3 linked regions of the Homo sapiens genome follow. The protein of the gene in region 3 interacts with the protein of the main gene of each other region in a pairwise test. Each region holds a gene or a part of one and is shown on either strand. Other genes may lie near its edges.

Region 1 (3,500 bases), on a different chromosome or scaffold from region 3:
GACTCCCAAAATAGTGCAGGCTCGAGGGGGTGGGGAATGGCTCCTGCTGAATGTGTGAATGGGTCCCTGGGTGCTTTCCTTCCTCTGGGAGCTCCGTGGGAGAGTGGAGTCGATGCCAAGTCAGAGAGCAGTTGGGGAGGAACCCAGAAGCCCTGGGATGGTGTCTGCATGGGAATGTGTAGGGAGGCAGCCACAATGGGCCTGGGCCTTCCTTTCTCTCCTTCCTGTCCCCCTCCCCCATCCCCCTCTCTCCTCCCTTCCTTCCTGGAACCCAGTACTGGGGGAAACACACACAGGTGGGATGCAGGTATCCGGGAAGCTCATAGAAGCTGCCACGCTGCTGGAGTTTGCCTCATACAGGAGCGTGGGCATGCCCCGCGTGGGGTTGTGCTGTGTGTGTGCATATGTATGGTTGTGTGTGCATGGGGGTGGGGGATTCTGACCTGGGGTCACTCCCAAAGCTTATCCAGGACCCCTCCTGTGCCCCAGGGTCCCCCCGACACCTGCCCGTCTGCCTCCCCATTGCACCTTTTCCATGTCGAGAACCTTGTCCTGCATCTCCCGAAGGGCCCCCAGTGTCTCCGTCTCCCGCAGCCTCGACTGCTCCAGCTCGGTCTCCAGGTGGGACACGAAGTCTTCTGTGAGGCGGGGGTTCTCCTGGGGGAGGCAGAGAGCTGCGTGGGGCCCCAGGCCATGGCTGGGGGATGGGCAGCCTCCATGCCTGCTGGCTTCTCCCCGCCTCCCCAGAGCCCTTCAGCAGGGAGAGGGGCCCAGGCTTGGGGTGTCCTGGGCTGGACCCCCTGATGCTCAGGGCCTAGAGGTCCTGGCATCCATGCAGCTGGCCCGGTCCAGCTTCCTTCCTGGAAAGGCTGCACAGAGGGGACATTCTGAAAGGTGACTTGCCTTGGCCTTCGGATGCCCCGCGGGACCCCAGTGACTGGTTTTCCGGGATCACTGGTGAGGGTGGGAGATGGGTTCTTGCTGGGTGGTCACCGTTCCAGCCACATGGTGGGCGAGGCAGGGGGTGGGGGAGAGGCCTGGGGCTGTGCACCTGTCTTTCCACCTCTCTCCTCTGCATCCCACCCTCCATTTCAAATCAGGGAAGGATGAGGAAAGAGTTTGTGGGTATCACCCTCTTGCTCCATGCCCTGGCTTCTCAGAAGTTCCCCAGTGGGGGCCCCTGGAGTGATGGACACTGCCACCTGGACCTGAAAAAGGACACCTGGTCCCTGGGGTGGGAGCCGGGCTCCCTCTCACTGACCTTGTGGCCTGGCAGGACAGTTCTCTGGGGGACTGCCTCAGCCCTCCCAGCCACCATCCTCTTCCTGTGGGTCTCTGAGATCCACGTGTGACGGTGGCTCTGCCTCGGCCCAGATGGCCTCCAGGCCCCATGTGGCTCCTCTGGGCCACCTCATCTTGCCTGCAGTGGCCTCCCTTTGGGCCTGAGGAGGTGGCCTTGGGCCTCCCCGATCTCTGCATCCCCCCAAGGTTGGAGCTCAGGGGTGGCTGGTGGAGTCTCTCTAACGAGCCTGAAAGGCGGCCTCATGCAGTGGGTGGGATGAGCCCAGCCTCAGTTTCCCTAATGTCCATGCTGCCTCAGAGCAAGGTGGGACAAGAGTGCTCACAGACTCTGAGGGCCACAACGCCAGCATCATACGGATGTGGTTCATGGGGACAAGTGAGAAACAGTGAAGCTCTCCTTCTCCCCAGGAGCAGTGGATCCGCTAGAATCCCTGGGCCAAGGCTTGAGCCACAGTCTCTGGGCCTGGGGGCGGAGGGGGCACCTCTGTATTGGATGGCTCTTCTTTCTCAAGCACTCCATGGTTTCTCCAACCTACACCCCACTGCCAGGCCCTGCTGGGTCAGGCCAGGATGGCAGCGGGACCTACAGCGTCGCTCCCGGCCCCTCCAGGGCATGTGTCCCTGTGGCCTGCAGGGCTTAGGACTGCAGCCACTGGGGGTCCCTGCGATCAGGAAGGCCAACTGCTGAGTGCAGCTGCAGTTAAGTTTTTTTTTTTTTTTTTTTTGAGATGGAGTCTTGCTCTGTCACCCAGGCTGGAGTGCGGTGGTGCCATCTTGGCTCACTGCAACCTCCACCTCCCGGGTTCAAGTGATTCTCCTGCCTCAGCCTCCTGAGTAGCTGGGACTACAGGTGCGCACCACCATACCCAGCTTATTTTTGTATTTTTATTAGAGATGGGGCTTCATCATGTTGGCCAGGCTGGTCTCGAACTCCTAACCTCAGGTGATCCACCTGCCTCAGCCTCCCAAAGTGCTGAGATTAAGGCGTGAGCCACTGCACCAGGTCGCAGTTAAGTTCTAAAAGCTTTCAGGAGAAGAAAATCTTGGGGTGGGGCCCCACTCATGGGCCTGCCCATCATGGGACCCAAAGTTCATGGCCCTCAAGACACTCAAGGTGCCCCCTCAGCCCCACCCTGCTGGCTCAGAGCTCCCCAAACAGTCCCGGACTGCCCTGCTCCCATTCTCCATGGCTGGCCCCCCAGGGACACCTAACAATCCTTCAGACCCTGGGGACAGGCAAGAGCCTCCGTAAGGAGTCACAGCCCTGTCTGCTGCCTGTGACACAGAGGAAACCCTGCAGGGACAGCCCGGTCTTCAGAGGCCTCCGTGCTGAGGCTGGGGGTTGGGAAGTCAGATACTGCAGACACACTATGAGGTGGCAAGAAATGGATATCAGGATGTCTCAGAATGTGGAGCTGCTGGGGGAGAATCTGCGCTTGTCTCTGGGTTCCCCTTACCCCAGAAAGGAACAGGAGGGCCAGGTGCTGAGGCGGGGCAGATTATGAGCCCTGAAAGAAAACCGTTGGGCGGGGGCGGGGGCGCGGGTCATGGCCCCGCCCAGCAGCCCCGCACACCCGCCCCTACCTGCTGCTCCTGTAGCTGCCGGATGGTGCTCTGTGCCTTCTGCAGGTCCTCGGCCGCCGAGCTGCACTGCTGCCGCACCACCGCCAGCTCCCGCTTGATGACGTAGTTCTCCTCCGCCTCCTGCGCCCGTGTCACTTGCCCCTGAGAACAGCGAGGACAGGGGGCAGGGGGAGGCCGTGACCCTCGGCTCCCACCCAAGGCCCTGCCTCCCGCCACAGGGGGAGGCCCAGAGAGTGGAGGTGGGGGGAAGTGAGGTGGGGGCCTCCCGTACTCAGAGCCTGGGATGAGCGTCCCACTGGGCCTGGGGACGTGGGTGGGTGACAGGCAGGAATAGGACACCTGGAGGAGCCCGGGAGGAACAGAGCTAGCCCTGGGCTTGGAAAGCTCCATCTCCTTCCCCACTCTGGCTCTCAGTCTCTGCCCCAGTTGGGATCCTTATCCAGGGGCACAGCGAGGCCACCTGTGCCTATTCATGCCAGACTCTGCCGGTGAGGGTGAGGATCTGGGGACAGCTGAGGCCCCGGCAGGAGAGGGCTGGGCTCCCCAGGGCATTCACCTCTCCCAGCGGCATCTTCTCTAGTCCTGGGCTCTGGGGCCTCCACCTGCCTGGAGCT
Region 2 (3,500 bases), on a different chromosome or scaffold from region 3:
TTAATACCAGGTTAATATGCTTGAGCCTTACACGTTTATATTTCATAAGCAGAAAATGATTAGTTATAGAACAAACCCACCCTCTTGTAGATATTTTTTAAAAACAAATAAACATAAAGTTTTGTTGCTTGTATTTCTATGCCCCTGGGACCTAGGAAGTATGGTATGACACACGGAGTTTCCCCAGCAGCCTTGTCCTATGGCCCCTAATTTTTCTGGGGAATGGCCTTAAATGTTTAAGGTCTAGCTTTGCTGGCAGCTTGATGTAGTTTGCAATGGTGCTAGCCTGCAGATGAGCTTTAATGCATTACTGTGAACTTTATGGGAGGGGGCAGGTGTATGGAGGGTGGGCTGAGAGGAAAAATGGGTGAGGAGATTGGAGTTGGGCAGAGGGCAAGGTGATTTTTAAATACAAAGTCAAGAGGGTTGCCACATTTAGGTTGCTTGTTACAGTCCTCACGTGCATCCTTCCCAGTTATGTTCCCTTGCACATGCTGGTAGGAAAGAAGCAGACGCTGAGAGACCTGCAACATTGCGAGCGGGGCTGCGGCAGTGTCGTGCTCCCTGTGCCTAGGGTGGCGCTGGGCACGTGCTCTGCCTGCTTCCAGCTGAGTGCAGCCAATGGCCTGGGCAGTGGGCTTCTTGGAGCGCCTTCCTGAAACTGCTTCCATATGTAGAGCTTCTGGCCTCTAATAATATGCTGAAACGGATGTTTAATACTTGGTAATATTCTTTTTCAATCAGCCCCAGACAGTTTAGGCACTTTGCATTGTCTGTGTGTGGTGTGTCTGTGTGTTTACTTCCAATTAAAATCCTGTTAAATATAGTTCATATTCGATTTCCAGCTGGGTGAGAACTTTCAAGGGATCAGAGAATCTTAGAGGAGAGGTGATATGAATACATTGCGACATGAACTGAACTGTCCCTGAGCTTATAAATAATATCTGCATCATGAAATTCCATTTGACACAATTTGATGACACTGGGGTGTTAATTGGGTCAGAGTGAAGCTTCTGGGTAGGACAGCACCACCCTTATTGAAGGAAGCTGTGGACCAAAAAGAGCTTCAAAGTACAGTGATAACTTCTTTAGGGGTCAGGAACTTTTTGGGAGAGGAAAGAATATCAGAAGGGAGCCAGTTAGTGGGGGAGAGAGAGAGTGTGGCTTTTTGCTTACATTCAAATTCTGTCAAATTGAAAAGACAAAGAATGAAGAGACCACTAAGTTTTGTTTTGTATGAATTAAAGAGTTAAATCAAAATGTGATTTTATTAAAAATATTTATGTGCATAGAAAGGTAGAATTCCAAGTTTGAGGATCTGTTTAACTTAGTTATATTCTAAGAGCCAAGAAAAAATGAGTAAACAACAAAAATTTCAAAAATATTTTATTATAGAAGCTATGCTACACAATATTTAGAATTTATCTATCAATTTTTCTGTTAATCCAGGTGTTATCCGTCTTTCCACCCATGTATTCACCCATCATCCCATCCACCCATCCATCCACCCGTTCATTCATCCGTCCATCCATCCATCATCTACCCATCCATCCACCAGTCCATCCACCAGTCCATCTACCCATCCACCCATCCATCCATCCATCCATCCATCCATCCATGCATCCATCCATTATCCACCCATCCATCTACCAGTCCATCCATCCATCCATCCCTCCATCCATCATCCATCCATCCATCCATCCATCCATCCATCCATCCATGCATGCATCCATCCATCCATCCATGCATCCATCCATCCATCCATCCATCCGTGCATCCATCCATCCATCCATCCTTCCATCTGTCTGTCTGCCCATCCATCCATTCATTCATCATTCCATCCTTCTATCCACCCATCCTTCCATCTATCCATCTATCATTTCATCCATCCATTCATCATTCCATCCATCTGCATATTCATTCAACAAATGTCAAAGGCCACATGCCTTCAGTGAACACAGAGCTCAGCAGGAACTATTTCTAAGTGTTGTGAGGACACAGGACAGGTACTAAAGCGTCCTTAGGTAGGGATGTTTAGTGCCAGTCATTCCTCTAGATGTCAAAGTGCCTCATACCATTACTCCGTTGCTTTAAGTTGTAAGCTCAGACCTGGGCAGTTTCGTATTCATCATTCCCCTCTTCCTTTGTTCCCTCTCCTTTCCTATTTCATAACAGTAACTGCCTTCTGAGCACCAACAATGCACCCCATACCGTGCTGGGCACAGGGAGTACCGTAGTGAGGAAAAGCACAGGTTGATATGGTTACTATTCCCAGAGAACTTGCCATTTGTAGGAGAGATAGGGGAACATGTGAATTACACAGAAAAACATAAAGTTAGCACTGTGGGTGTGCTCTGGAGGATGGGGCGAGTGTCTCTGGATGCAGATAATTTGGCAGTTGACTTAGAGTAACTGGGAAGACTCGCCTTGTCTGAAGGATGGGCTGGCGTTACCGGATGGACTGGGAGGATCCCAAGTGATCCACATAATCTCCCATCTTGACTTAGTCACGTCGCCTTTTAACATTTCCAAATAAAGTAACCAACATTCCCATATTTCAGGGATTTGGATGTGAATATCTTTTGGGGGAGTGCACTTCTGCCTTTCACAAGGTTGACATTCTACAACTATTTTCTGCCTCCTCTCCTAAATTTTAAGTTCTTCTAGGGGACAAAAAAATGGGTATTTTTTCTATCTCTGATTTCTCTCCAGTATTTTTAGCTTTGTGCTTTGGACATTGCAGGGGCTCAATACAATTTTTAACTGTGCTTCCAAGAGTGTGAAATATTGCTGGAAATCATTTACCTGACAGTGCAGTGGTTTGATGCTGCCTTTTCCAGTAATTCAGAGCGCCGCAGGAAATACTTTGGTCAATAATACCAGCTAATGTTTTGAGTAATTGTTGTATGGCAGGCACTGTGCGGAGTGACTTATGAGGATAATTTTTGTGAATTTGCAGATAAACTCAATGGGGTAGATATGTACTGGACCAGAAGTTGAAGTTCAGAGATGTTAAGTAACTTCTCCAAGTCATAGCAACATAAAAGACAGGCAGAGTCTGAATTCTGATGCCAGAACCCATACCCCTGGCCATTCTGCTGACTTCTGATAATTATATGGAATAACTAAAAACCAGGCGGTTTGTCAGGCAGAATTGTTACATGGTGCCAGGCTTGCCAGGGGCTGAGTGCAGAGAGGTCTTGAGACCATTTTAGTTTTTAGCTCAGAGCCTGGTATACAGATGACCCTTGATATTTGTTGAGCAAATGAATAAATGAACATCATGTTATTTAGTTTTCTCAGCATTATTTTTTCCAGCAGCAATCAGAAATAACACCTGAAAGGGATTAAAATGGGGATTTACTTCCAAGACCACCAGGGAGGTAGAAGAGATTCTCTGATGGTGTGGAATGGTTTGGTTATCTCCTAGGTCAGCTTCTTTTTTGTTTTTTTTATTTTTATTTTCCTCCTCCCCCACCTCCCTAGGTCAAGCTTCTTAA
Region 3 (4,187 bases):
TCACAGAAGAAAACATACTTGGCAATAAGTAATGTTACCAAGGTCACACATCTAGCAAGTGGGAAAGCTAGGGATTAAACCCAGTCCTGTGTGAACCTAAAGCTTGTCTTCATTAAAGTTTTATCCATTTAAAGCTATCTTTTCTCCCCCTCCCCATATCAATTAAAAACAACATCAAAACACAGTAGAAATGAAAAACTAACATGAAACCCCTTTAGCTAATGTAAGATCATACAATCAAAAGCATCACATTATTACATTGTAAATAACACCACATCATATTACAAATAACAAACATCTATCAATATACAGAGCTTTCTATATATAGAAGCCTTTTATGTGTATAATGTCTATAGAGAGAGACGAATCCTGCTATACACTGTTCTTTATGTTACTCAGTCCAAATAATTGTTTTCCTACCTAAGTGATGATCTGTGTTATTTCTCACTATATCCCAATAATTACAAGTTAGTCTTCTTATTAATGTAATATTTGTGACTTGAGGGACTGCTACCACACTAAAATGACACTCAGGTTTAAAAACGACACAATAAGAACTAAGGTCTGTACCTGCCAAGATAATCAATGGCATTTACATTTGCTTTTTTCTTTAATAAAAATTCCACCATTTTCACTTTTCTTCGACTCACAGCAAATAACAGTGGCTGATATTCACACTGTAAAATAACAGCAACAATTTATAATCACAAAATTACATATTTATCAACTGAACTGAAAACCTTATGTAAGTAAGATCCTGTGAGCTTCAATATATACAATTGAAAGGTCATAAGAGGTAGTCCCTTTCTTTTCCCTCCTCGGTGCTTTTCTATGTTCTGCTCCTTCCCCTGGAAACAACCTCCTCTGCCTCACCACAAGAACTCTGGTCATCTCCAAAACTCACTTCAAACATTTCCCAGTTCCAAGAATCTTTGCTTCTGTCCCAGCATTTAGCATGGCATGTTTCAAGGATTTAATTGTTTCCCACCTGAACCAAGAGCTTCTTGAGGGCAGCAGCTGTATTTTTTTCTCTATGTCCTCAAACTCTAAGACACAGTAATAAATGTTTCAGGTATTTTTATTAATGATCTAAATTATTATCTATAGAGCGGTGTTTCTTAAACTATTAATATATTCCAAAGGATATTTACTTTACCAGAATTTGAACATTATACCCCAAAAGAGAGACTCCATGATCACCCATGTTTGAAAAATGTTACAAAACTGCATTATGTGTCTAGTATTTGAGAAATCTTTTGAACTTCACCTAATCCCTATTTGTAAATACTTATTTTGGAGAATGTTAACATTTGAGAAATGAGAGTTTCAGGGATACAGTTGTGAGAGCTTACCAGTAAAGGTAGAGGTTTCCTCTGGGTGATACACACTTGCCTCATTCTCTTCTATCGATGGTGTAAGAATCTCAGGTGACAATGTCAGGAGCTCCTGAGCACCTGAGCACCTGACATTGTCATCTGAGATTCTGACACGATTGACAGTTCATTTGAAGCCTATCTCTTTTTAATTCGGAGAGCCGGGCTCTGAATTAATAGAGATAGGCTTCGAGTGAACTTTCACTGCTTATTATTAAATAGTCCATGGGTTTTCTCTAGTAATATTTTTATCTTAGCTGTCAGAAAGCTCTGTATGAAATGTTATTCTCAATTACAATCTTAGGACCCTGATGCAAATATTTATGTAATTATAATCTTAGGACCCTGGTACATAACTCCTTTAAAAATCTATTTGTATTCTAGTTTCCAATTAATTCTTACTTTTTTTATTTTAGGTAAAATATCAATCAGAAATAAAAATACAATGGCTTATCAATTAAAGCTCTAATAATGACCTATATGAATTATTTATAGCATAATGAAAGCCACTAAATTATTTGCATCTTTTATTTATTTATTTATTTGGGATGGAGTCTCGCTCTGTCGCCCAGGCTGGAGTGCAGTGGTGCCATCTTGGCTCACTGCAACCTCCGCCTCCCGGATTCAAGCACGAGAAATTCTCCTGCCTCAGCCTCCCGAGTAGCTGGGACTACAGGAGTGTGCCACCACACCCAGCTAATTTTTTGTATTTGTAGTAGAGAGGGGGTTTCACCGTGTTAGCCAGGATGGTCTCAATCTTCTGACCTCGTGATCTACCTGCCTCTGCCTCCCAAAGTGCTAGGATTACAGGCGTGAGCCACTGCGCTCGGCCAATTACTTGCATTTTTAGGAGGCAATGCTGAAGAGAAAAATATAATGTTGTCTGCAATATGCATAACCTATGCAACCATACCATGATTCACCTTAAAAAGCTTACATGCATTCTAATGGGAAGATGATTATTTATGGTATGTATAAAGAAAAATAGTTTATAAAACACCACCATCTAAATTCAAAAGTTCAACCCGATTACCAAAGGATTTATATAAAATATAGACTCTACATTTAAATAAATATAAAATGTCTTAAAAACCTTGAAATATTTACTAAAATATATTATAAAACAGGGCTTGTAAAGTCATCCCTACAGAGGCAAGGGAGATGACCTGAGGAAGTGAAGTACCTAGGTAGGCACAGTAGCAAAATGGAGACCACATGCCTCATAGAAAGGGGCAACCTCTGCACAGCATCCAAAACCTGAGATAGGCTCAAGGGACACCAGATTGGATTCTTGAAGAGAAGCCTGGAATCCAGATCTGTGCACGAGTCTCCTAAACCTTCCATGTTGAGACAATTTGTAGACACAAACTAAACACATGTATGGGACACATTTGGACTATATACCTTGTATTTTTATATTTGCTATGGATATGTCTCCAAGCAATTGTATGTAACACAAGTATTTTCATGTAAAATACTTCCTTTCTTTAGTTTCAGATTTTTTTTTCCAAAATAGGCCCAAGAATACAATAAAAATTGTTACTAAGAGTCATAATACCCACTTTGAGCACTTTTACAACATTCATTCATTTATAATTTATGTTTAATTTTCCCAGATTGTTCACCAAATGGATAATTAGTTCATAAGACTGCTGCAACTAAATTATTAAAATAATATTAAATTATAATTCTAGTTTCTATATTGTAACCTAATTTTTTTATTTTAGGGAAAATATAAATCAGAAATAAAAATACAATGGCTTATCAATTAAAGCTCTAATAATGACCTATATGTATTCTTTGTATTCTTACTAACTTCATGGTTTTCAGTGTTTAAAACTGCTATCCTGATTATGCCACAGTTCTATGTACTTAACTGACATACTGAGGCAGTCCATAATAGAGCTTCAGCTTTAAAAAAAGGTTTAGAATTTTTTGCTATTGTAATTGAGAGAACCCCGCTTTTAATAATGATGTATTGACCTAATCACCAGAATGATAACAAAGAGACTCAGAGTCCTGAAAGAGTCAGTCTCTACTTATTAAAAGAGTCCACAATAGCAAATTTCTAATGACCCTATGAATGGCAGTGAATAAGTGATGGTGGCAAAGAAAAGGTGTTATTCTTATGCTGATAGATACTGCAAATAATAGTCCTTTCCACTTCCCAACCACAGAGGTAGAGACAGGTAAAAGTCAGGCCAATATTATTGGAAAGGAGAAATTTAAAGGAAGCAGCACCTATCTCCAGCTCTTCTAGAGATTTTTTGTGTGTTTGAGATATGGGAATTTATATTACACTTATCTATTCAGTGGTTCTTAACCAGCAGCGTATCAGTGTCCCAAGAAATGTTTTATTGTTGTTGTTGTTGTTGTGTTGTTGCTGTTAGAGGCAGTGTCTTAATCTGTTGCTCTGGCTAGAGGCACCACCATGCCCAGCTTCAAGGAAATATTTTAAAACATACATGCCCAGTAATATTTAATAGTAAATATTAGATTTACCATATTAAAATCTTCAGGGGATATCCTAGACTTAGAGATTTGCTTTTAATTTCCCCAGGTTACTGCCATGCACAATTCTAACTGCGAACCAGCACAGTTGATAATCACTTCAGTCTCATTTCTCACCCACGTGGCAAATTCCCTTTATCGTTTGGGATTTGGCCGAAAAGAGGAAAGAGCAAAAGATAGAGCCATTCACTGAAGACTTCATTTACTTTTCCTGGGTAGGGGTAGGGAAGAGACTAGTAAGCTCAAAATCCAACTTGATTTTACTATTTATAAGCTCCGTATCTCCCACCTGCCCATCAAGAC

Evidence for each region. The genes of interacting proteins can lie anywhere in the genome.
Region 1: the proteins of ANKRD36 (region 3) and EVI5L interact in a two-hybrid assay, tested with the Homo sapiens proteins (one large-scale study listed by BioGRID).
Region 2: the proteins of ANKRD36 (region 3) and TMEM132D interact in a two-hybrid assay, tested with the Homo sapiens proteins (one large-scale study listed by BioGRID).

The regions. Positions count from the first base shown.
Region 1 is NC_000019.10:7,857,718-7,861,217, reverse strand, and holds part of EVI5L (EVI5-like protein), read right to left. Parts: intron 3,028-3,500; coding exon 2,887-3,027; intron 658-2,886; coding exon 529-657; intron 1-528. UniProt on the Homo sapiens protein: Functions as a GTPase-activating protein (GAP) with a broad specificity.
Region 2 is NC_000012.12:129,897,526-129,901,025, reverse strand, and holds part of TMEM132D (transmembrane protein 132D precursor), read left to right. Parts: intron 1-3,500. UniProt on the Homo sapiens protein: Regulate neuronals morphology via inhibition of the WAVE regulatory complex (WCR), a complex that controls F-actin cytoskeletal dynamics.
Region 3 is NC_000002.12:97,119,377-97,123,563, reverse strand, and holds part of ANKRD36 (ankyrin repeat domain-containing protein 36A), read right to left. Parts: intron 678-4,187; coding exon 571-677; intron 1-570.